3 linked regions of the Homo sapiens genome follow. The protein of the gene in region 1 purifies or fractionates together with the protein of each later gene. This does not show direct contact. Each region holds a gene or a part of one and is shown on either strand. Other genes may lie near its edges.

Region 1 (3,662 bases):
GGTTTCAAACTCCTCAGCTCAAGCAATCCTCAGGCCTCGGCCTCCCAAAGTGCTGGGATTACAGGTGTGAGCCACCAAGCCCCGCCTACTACATTATTTCATACGGCAACCTCTGTCTCTGCCTCCCCCCAGGCACATACTCCTGATCCCTTCTCTACTTTTCTTTCTCCATAATACTTACCACCTTCTAAGGTATTATACAATTTGCATATTTATAGTTTATTGTTTATTCAGTTTCCCTTTGTTAGAATGTAAGCTTAAAAGCCAAGATCTTTGTCCTCATCTTAGTCCTTTGTTCGTTATTGTATCCCAAGTTACTAGAACAGTGCCTGGCACAGAATTGGCACTCAGTAAATATTTGCTAACTAAATGAATGAATAAGCCACAAAAAAAATGATACTTAGGGAAAACTTAGAAATAGGTTGTAATAGCGACTGGGCACAATAGCTCATGCCTGTAGTCTCAGCCCTTTGGAAGCTGAGATGGGTGTATCACTTGAGGTCAGGAGTTCAAAACCAACCTGGTCAACATGGTGAAACCCCGTCTCTACTAAAAATACAAAACTTAGCTGGGTATGTGTGGCAGGCGCCTGCAATCTCAGCTACTACAGAGGCTGAGGCAGAAGAATGGCTTGAACCGGGAAGGCGAAGGTTGCAGTGAGCCAAGATTGCATCACTGCATTCCAGCCTGGGCGACAGAGCCAGACTCCATCTCAAACAAAAAAAAAAAAAAAGGAAAGAAACATGTAATAGTAAAAAGTTATTTTTTTAAAAACCCTTTAAGTCTACTTTGATTAATTACATGAAATAGATCTTTTCTGGATAAGGACTAGAAAAGAAAAGGCAGAGTCCAACTAAGGAAGAAATACACTAAATTAGAATTTAATGCAAAATAGAAAAAGCATCCTTTGGCAAGATTTGAATATATGATAAGTTTTTTAGATGTGAACTTGAAAATGTACAAAATGATGCATAGATTTTCAAAATTTCTTTCAGGGGTACTTCAAGGGTAAAAAAGGCTGAAGACCACTGAACTAAAGGAGCTACAAAACTGTCTCATTTGAAGCTTGGTGTGGGAGGGATGGGAGTAGGTCTTAAATAATTCCATTTTACAGAATCTTTATCAGAGATTGATGGGTATTTTTATCTCCACCCAGATTGGCTTTGTAATGTGGCGATTACATCAACATGGTTTGCATCTTATACACCTGCAATTTGAAATTGTGTGATTCTGGTTAAAATACTAATTTTGGAGGCTTTGCATTATTTTAAACATTGTATATGATATGAAAATTTATCAGTATTACTCTACCGTACTATTTGAATTTTACATAATGTGATCCATATGTCACCTGACAATACTACATTTCACCTCAAGTCAGACCTGTGGTTAGTTCTAGGCATCATCTTCTTTAAGGATTTGGAGATGGAGACCGAGTTGAATAATGATAAGGTACTTCTTAATTCCAGCTACATGAGGTAGATCCCATCAAAAGTGGTGGCGCCCAAATTTGAACCCAGCTTTGTCATAATTCAAACTCTTTCTACTTGCCTCTCAAGTTTCTCTGTGAAAGAAATCCATGTTGTTCAGTGGCACTAATTTGGATATGAAGAGTAACAATTCACTTACTTTTCCTATTGCATATATATATTTTTAAGATGTTCTCATTCCGGAGGGGAAGAACGTCTAGAAACTCCTTCTGCTAAAAAATTAACAGATATAGGAATTCGAAGAATCTTTTCTCCAGAGCATGACATTTTCCGGAAAAGTGTAAGGAAGTTTTTCCAAGAAGAAGTGATTCCTCATCACTCAGAGTAAGTGGCACATTTTCCTCTAATGTAATGTATACTAGGGGTATTATAGGACCATTTCCTAGAATGCCATATATTGCTATACAGAAAACATAGTATGTTCAGGGCTTTATTAACATTTTTACTGCTCTTCACTGTAGTACTATAAGATCCCAGGATTCTTAGAGCTTTTTAAATGAATTTTAAAATGTACTATACACAAATAAGAAAATTTGAAAATTTACAACTTAGTCTAAGAGTAGTGTTTTTGAAAACCATGGGTAAGTGGTAACAAAATACTAGTCAATTTCATAGTCTTTCTTTTTCTGCTTCATGAATTAATTAAACTGTAAAAACCCAAAAAGTCAGCACAATGCAAACCTTGGTAAGCAATTGGTTACCTCTGGATAGTTCTTGATTAACTAATTATTATTATTTTATTGACCAGAAACTTATCTATTTCTATTACAATAAGATTTTGCTTCATTTCCAAAATTCACTCAATGCTAGTACAGATGCTCCTCAATTTAGTATGGGGTTACAAGTTGAAAATATCATAAGTCAAAAATGCATTGTTATTATGTTAACACTGTTACTATGTTATTATAAAAACAAAAAAATTCTCGGCACCGTTATTATGTTAGAAGCAGAAATTAGAAGATTAGTAAAATGAAGAGAGAAATGGTTCAGGAACATCATAGGTTTGTGAGGTTTTACACACCTAGCCTACTAAACCCCATAGTTTAGGCCAGCCTACATTAAACATGCTCAAAACAATTACATAAGCCTACAGTTAGGCAAAATCATCTAACACAATGTCTACTTTGTAGTAAAGTATTAAATAACTCATGTAATATATTAAATATATTTAATATATGTTAAAGTGAAAAACAAAATGGTTATATGGATACTTGAAGTAAGCATGTTTTCGACTGAATGTGTATTGCTTTTGCACCATCATAAGTAAAAAAATTGTAAGTTGAACTGTCATAAAGTACAGAGACATCCGTACTTTAAAACATTTAGAATGGTTTTTAAATAGCATTAAAAGTAACTTCCATTAGGTTTTTACTAATACCTTCTTGGTAAGAATGACCAAAATAAGCTAAACTCAGAAGCCAGAAGCCATGACTAGTCTTCGGTGAAAAGCAACTAGCTTCTGTTTTTTGAGGACTTGTTTGTTTGTTTGTGTGTTTGTGTGTTTTTTAAGACATGGTCTCACTCTGTTGCCAAGGCTGGAGTGCAGGGGCATGATCATAGCTCACTGCAGCCTTGAACTTCTGGGCTCAAGCGATCCTCCTGCCTTAGCCTCCCAAAGTGCTGGGATTACAGGTGTGAACCACCACATCGGGCTTCAACTAGCTTCTTAAAGACAAAAGAGACATTGTACACTTTGCTCTGGTAGGATCTCTTGTTTATTTCTCACTGCTTTTAAATTTTATTCCAGAAAAAATGTTAAGAAGGCTTTGAAATAAAATAATAGGAGCTGACAAATTTTAAGTCAATAATAAAAATATTTCCAAAGCTACTTTAAGCAAGAACTGTATTCAAAACACACATGATAATCCAAGTCTTAAAAATTTTTGTAGTGTCAGTATCTTCAAATACCCCATATCTCACTATAATCCACTTAAAAATACAAAAATTCTCAGATATTTTTTCACTATCTCCAACTAGCCATCTGTTTCCTCATTCTGCCATTCTCATTTTTAAAGAAGAAAAGCTGAGGTTGCCTACCTTACACAAATATCTAATTTTTTCAGAAGTTAATTTGATATAGAGCCATGGTGTAAGGTGCTTCTGCTCTCCTGTTCTTCCTATTTAAACTGTAATGAGGTTCCCTACTTTGTCAGCTTTTGTATGCTTGTACCA
Region 2 (3,662 bases), on another chromosome or scaffold:
AAGCTCTTTATAGATCAAAGATATTTTGCATAATATTAACAACTGTAGTAAACCAATAATAATAGACATCATCCAATTAGTACACAGTCAGCCTGAGCAGCATAGCAAGACCCTATCTTTAGAAATTTTTTTTTTTTAGTTAGGCATAGTGGGGGCTGAAGTGATAGAGGATCACTTGAGTCCAGGAGTTTGAGGTTACATGAGCTATGGGTGATTAAGTAAGGTTCTGTCTCTTAAAAAAAATAGTACATATATGTGCCAAGCACTGTGCAAAACACTTTCCATGCATTATTCATCTAATCCAAAAAATAACCTAATGGTTTTTATTGGTTCCATTTAACAGATGGGGAAACAGGTTCAGAGAGGTTAGATAGTTTTTCCAAGGTCACTTAGCTGTAAGTTCTGAAACTGAGGTTTGAACTGGTCTGCCCAACTCCAGAGCCTGTATAGCTAATCACTCTCCTATATCTCATTGAAATCTAACCTCACCACTCTAGGAAGGAGACAAGGTTTTACACTGAGGGCTCCTCTTTCAACCTCTCTCCTTGACTTCCAAGGATTTCTAGATACTACTCTGCCTAGAATCTCTGCCCAGCTCCATGACACTTGACTCTCCTCATCCCTGACTCCAATTCCTCCTCCTGCCCCGCGAGACTCCTCAGCTCTCTGCGGTTTCTTCACGGGCTCCCTCAGTGCCCACTCAGGGTTTGTTTTGACCTCTCCTGTAGGAAGACGGCACCCACATCTCCATCTCTAGCCCTTCCTCCCCGGTCTACTCTGTGGCCCCTACTCCAGGTTCATCTCTAGCCCTGCCCCCACATGCAGCTGTAGATTAGCCTTCCCGCATCAAAGATGTGATGTTTATTAATAACATAACCCAGACTTACTGTAGAAAATTTGGGGAGAGAGAGAGAAATCCCCCCATAATTCTACCCTCCAAAGTCAACTAGCATTTGGGGCATTCTATGCTGGTATTTTTTCTGAGTATGTTTTACATGTTGAGACCATACTATGTATAGTTTTTTTTCAAGATTTTTTACATAAAATTTCATCATAAGCCTTTTCCTTTATTGTTTTTTATTATTAAATAGCTACATAATATCCTACTATATGGTAACACCATAATTTTTTTAGCCATTCCACTGGTAGACATTTAGGCAGTTTTCAACTTTTTCCTAGTAAAACACTGAGCATAAATGTTGGTCTTCATTTAAGGCAATGTTCTTACGAGCTTCCAAACTCTGCCCCCCATAATTCTGTCCTCTCCACCAAGCTCTTTCTGCTCCTCAGGGCTATGCACTTATTTCTCAACTGAAAGTCCCATGAGGGCAGATCCTGTGTTGGCAACAGCACCCCTTGTGCCAAGCACACAGCGGGCACTCTGGGTATTTGTTGACTGGGCTCCTCTGAGGGAACATAGCAGCATACACCCACAGGTATTCCAGGATGCAAGAATAAACAGCACAACTCCCTGAGGCATCCGTTTTACTGAATGGCAATTTACAGTATTTTTAAATTAAAACAAGCTGGAAATAATAGAGTAGGATGCATACAGCACAAGAATTTAAAGAAAAAATGTGAGACTTTTCTCACTGCACGTTAGGTATGAGTTAACTCTCCTCTAGACTCAGGGTTCTTCTGAAGGAACATTTTAGGAGCTCTTAAGTTCTGTCCCTTCCTTTAAAAACCTGCTGAGATCCCCTCCCCAGCCCTGGAGACTGCTCCAGCCTTAAGTACTTCTGGTGGCCTGTACATTGATGCAATGTAGGTTCATTCACCAAGCATTTATTTAACTCTTACTGTCTGCCATGTTGAAATAGCCTTGACCCCAAAACTGGTCTTGAAGTGAAAAACCAAGGTCCACTGGACTTCGCCTCTGGGGACAAAGAGATGGGTCCGGTTTGGCGGGAACTGCAAGTAGCCACACAAAGGGATAAAGATGTGTGTCCAGGGCCTTCCGCCATGTCCATCTCCCCTCACTTCTACCACACTGTTCAGGGCTCTGTGACCTTTTTTTTTTAAAAAACAGCTTTATTGAGATGTAATTCACATATGTCACCCTTTAAAGTACACAGTTCAGTGCATTTTATTGTATTCACAGAATAGTGGAACAATTAGCATAACCTAAGTTAGAACATTTTTGCCACCTCAAAAAGAAACCCAGTCCCATTAGCAGTCACTCTCCATTCCCATCCTCTTCCCAGCTCCAGCAACCACTAATCTACTTTCTGACTCTATAGATTTGTCTATCCTAAACATTTCCTATCAATGGAATTATAAAATATGTGGTCTTTGTGACTGGCTTCTTTCATTTAGTATGATGTTTTCAAGGTTCATCTATGTTGTAGCATGTATCAGTATTTCATTCCCTTTTTATTGCCACATAGTATTCCATTGTGTAGATAGAAAACATTTTTTTTTTTTTTTGAGACAGGGTCTCACTCTGTCACCCAGCTGGAGTGCAGTGGTGCAACCACTTACTACAGCCTCCACCTCCAGGGCTCAAGTGATCATCCCACCTCAGCTTCCCGAGTAGCTGGGATTACAGGTGCATGCCATCACACCAAGCTAATTTTTTAATTTTTTGTAGATATGGGGTCTCCCTATATTGCCCAGGCTGGTCTCGAGCTCCTGGCCTCAAGCAATCCTCCCACTTCAGCCTCCAAAATGTTGGCATTACAGGCATGAGCCACCGCACCTTGCCTAGAACATATTTTATATTTATCCATTCATCAATTTATAAATATTTGGGTTATTTCCACTTTGGGCTATTTTATAACTAAATATAGCTAATAATATCCCACTTGTGGGATATTATGAATAATGCTGCTATGAACATCCATGCATAAGTTTTTGCGTGGACATATGTTTTCATTTCTCTTGGGTATATACATAGGTATGGAATTGCTGGGTCATAACTATGTTTGACATTTTAAGGTGCCAGCACCAATTTATGTTCCCACCAGCAATGTATGAGGGTTCCAAGTTTTCCACATCCCAGACAACACTTATTTTTTTATTATACTTTAAATTTTAGGGTACATGTGCACAATGTGCAGGTTAGTTACATGTGTATACATGTGCCATGTTGGTGTGCTGCACCCATTAACTCGTCATTTAACATTAGGTATATCTCCTAATGCTAACCCTCCACCCTCCCCCCACCCCACAACAGGCCCCAGAGTGTGATGTTCCCCTTCCTGTGTCCATGTGTTCTCATTGTTCAATTCCCACCTATGAGTGAGAACATGCGGTGTTTGGTTTTTTGTCCTTGCGATAGTTTGCTGAGAATGATGGTTTCCAGCTTCATCCATGTCCCTACAAAGGACATGAACTCATCATTTTTTATGGCTGCATAGTATTCCATGGTGTATGTGTGCCACATTTTCTTAATCCAGTCTTATCATTGTTGGACATTTGGGTTGGTTCCAAGTCTTTGCTATTGTGAATAGTGCCGCAATGAACATACGTGTGCATGTGTCTTTATAATCCTTGACTTATAATCCATGACTTATAATCCTTTGGGTATATACCCAGTAATGGGATTGCTGGATCAAATGGTATTTCTAGTTCTAGACCCCTGAGGAATCGCCACACTGACTTCCACAATGGTTGAACTAGTACAGTCCCACCAACAGTGTAAAAGTGTTCCTATTTCTCCA
Region 3 (2,665 bases), on another chromosome or scaffold:
TTAGTTCATAAATCAAGAGCACAAACGGACTTAAAATATTTCAAGTATATTTTGAGCTACAAACATATTGGCATATAAGAGCAAACTATGCGGCTTTTATAAATGGAAGTGCATTGAAAAGCATAAAATGATGGAATACATATTGACAATGCAATATAATGTTAAGAAAAAGTTGCGTCTATCATGAACATTGCCCTTGAAACTTGTTTAGAAGCTGAATCTGCTGCAAAAAGGGCATTTGGGAAATCTGTGCTTCAGAATCCATCCTGCCTACCTATTTGCAACTTTAAATGATTGAGTTTAACTTTTAGGAAACCCAACATCCTAGAGAAGTCTTTCTGCTTCTTTGTCCTTCACAAGATCAACTGAAGTTCTCTAGCTGTGTAAAAAGGCTGAATTTCAGGTAATGAAAGAAAGTTAAACTGCTTTGGTTTTTTGAATTATTTTCTTGTTTAAATATAAGGTTTAAGTATAATGACAATTATTTTTAAATTTCTAAAATTAATTTTACTCAAAGATAGCATAACAATGTTAAGGAAAAGGAAATAATAATACAGTCATCCATGATACTGTTGCCAGCACCATAATTTTTATTAATGCATATTATCCTCCCATGTATTTTACATTCATATTTTACATATAATGATGACATTCATATAGCTTTTTTTTTTATATTCCAGAAAATGTTATTTACTTGTTACTGACAATGTCTCTTCTAGACGAGTCATCCTGTTTTTTCTCCCGCTGTTGTACTTTTGCTTTTCTTTTTCCACCTACTCAGATCCTTCACTTCCTCACCCCTACTCCTATATCACCATGTCAGGTAATGCATATTAACAACTTGGTAAATATCCTTCAGTTGCTTTCTTCATCTCCTTTCCCAGGTGCCCACATGCATCCCTCACATACATCCTTCTCGGTATTCTGTTTTGTTCACTTTGCACGGGAATCCTTCTAAGTCAACCTTTAAACATCAAACTCATTTTTAAATGAATGCATAATGTTCTATATTATGCATGAATCATAATTTATTCAACTATTCTATTGATGGGCATGCACTCTGTTTTTCCTTCTAGAGTGTGGCAATAAATAATCTTGTGCATTTCCTTTCATTTCCTTGGTGTAGATATCAGTAGTAGAATTGAGGTCAAATATGCATATTTAATTTGAACAGATATCAGCTCTACAATGCACATTTCCATCAGCAATAAATGATTCATTTCTTGCCCTTTACCTCTCTTCTGGGACTGTAGTGTTCTCTGAAGTTTTCGTCCATGTGTTGGGCTCGTTGGTACTTTGATTCGTATTTCTCTGGCTACAGTTAGAGCATCTTTTTATGTTGATGGGCCATTTGGATTTGTTCTTATCTAAACTGCCTAGTTATATATCTTTCAACCATTTATCTTTTGAATAGTTTACCTTTTTTTTTTTTTTTTTTTTTAAACGGAGTATCACTCTTGTTGCCCAGGCTGGAGTGCAATGGCACCATCTTGGCTCACTGCAACTTTCGCCTCCTAGGTTCAAGCAATTCTCCTGCCTCAGCCTCCTGAGTAGCTAGGATTACAGGCATGCACCACCACACCCAGCTAATTTTGTATTTTTAGTAGAGATGGGGTTTCTCCACGTTGGCCAGGCTAGTCTCAAACTCCTGACCTCAGGTGATCCACCCGCCTCGGCCTCCCAAAGTGTTGGGATTACAGGCATGATCCACCGTGCCTGGCCGTGAATAGTTTAATCTTTTATCTGTGCTATACTTTCCCAAATTTGACTTTGCAATATATTTTGCCAAATTTTAAATTTATATATACAGTCTGTGACTTACAGTTTTACTTATAATTTTTCAGCTTTGTGATGGATTTATCAGGGTATTAAATGCATTTTCGACTTACATTTTTGACTTCTGATGGGCTTATTGGGACATAACCCCATTGTAAGCTGAGAAGCATCTGTGTGTACACACACACACACTTATTATTTACTTGAAATATATATCTTAAATATAGCTTCATTTTTAAAAATTAGCTAAGAAGGTCTACCCTATCTCTAGATTTCTAGTCTCTTAGATTTTCTTCTAAGACTTCTACTGTTTTACTTTATAGCTTGAAAACATTTTAATATATCTGGAAAGTGCTTTTTGCATGATATAGGGGTTGAACTTTTATTGTCTTTAGACAGATAGTTAGTTGTGCTAGCATTTTACTGATACTATTTTCTATTGAAATATATTTTTGTCGGCCGGGCACAGTGGCTCACACCTGTAATCCCAGTACTTTGGGAGGCTGAGGCGGGCAGATGACCTGAGGTTGGGAGTTCGCAACTAGCCTGACCAACATGGAGAAACCCCATCTCTACTAAAATACAAAATTAGCCCAGGCGTGGTGGCACATGCCTGTAATCCCAGCTACTCGGGAGGCTGAGGCAGGAGAATCACTTGAACCTGGGAGGCGGAGGTTGTGGTGAACCAAGATCGTGCCATTATACTCCAGTCTGGGCAACAAGAGGGAAACTGTCTCAAAAAAAAAAAAAAAAAAAAGAAAGAAAAAGAAATATATTTTTGTCACGTATAAACGTCATATACTGGAATCTAGTTCTGGACTCAGTTCTACTCTACTCTTTCACTTGAACTTTAAGATCATTTTGCTTAATTTCTTTTCTTTTTTCTTTT

Evidence for each region.
Region 2: the proteins of ACADL (region 1) and SYT2 purify together in Homo sapiens (affinity purification with mass spectrometry; 3 studies listed by BioGRID and IntAct, with this or other methods). This does not show direct contact.
Region 3: the proteins of ACADL (region 1) and RAP1B purify together in Homo sapiens (affinity purification with mass spectrometry; one large-scale study listed by BioGRID and IntAct). This does not show direct contact.

What each region holds. Positions count from the first base shown.
Region 1 is NC_000002.12:210,218,799-210,222,460, reverse strand, and holds part of ACADL (long-chain specific acyl-CoA dehydrogenase, mitochondrial precursor), read left to right. Parts: intron 1-1,658; coding exon 1,659-1,814; intron 1,815-3,662. UniProt on the Homo sapiens protein: Long-chain specific acyl-CoA dehydrogenase is one of the acyl-CoA dehydrogenases that catalyze the first step of mitochondrial fatty acid beta-oxidation, an aerobic process breaking down fatty acids into acetyl-CoA and allowing the production of energy from fats.
Region 2 is NC_000001.11:202,605,872-202,609,533, forward strand, and holds part of SYT2 (synaptotagmin-2), read right to left. Parts: intron 3,070-3,662; exon of another isoform or gene 73-3,069; coding exon of another isoform or gene 1-72. UniProt on the Homo sapiens protein: Exhibits calcium-dependent phospholipid and inositol polyphosphate binding properties. May have a regulatory role in the membrane interactions during trafficking of synaptic vesicles at the active zone of the synapse.
Region 3 is NC_000012.12:68,669,804-68,672,468, reverse strand, and holds the end of RAP1B (ras-related protein Rap-1b isoform 1 precursor), read right to left. Parts: 3' UTR 568-2,665; downstream 1-567. UniProt on the Homo sapiens protein: GTP-binding protein that possesses intrinsic GTPase activity. Contributes to the polarizing activity of KRIT1 and CDH5 in the establishment and maintenance of correct endothelial cell polarity and vascular lumen.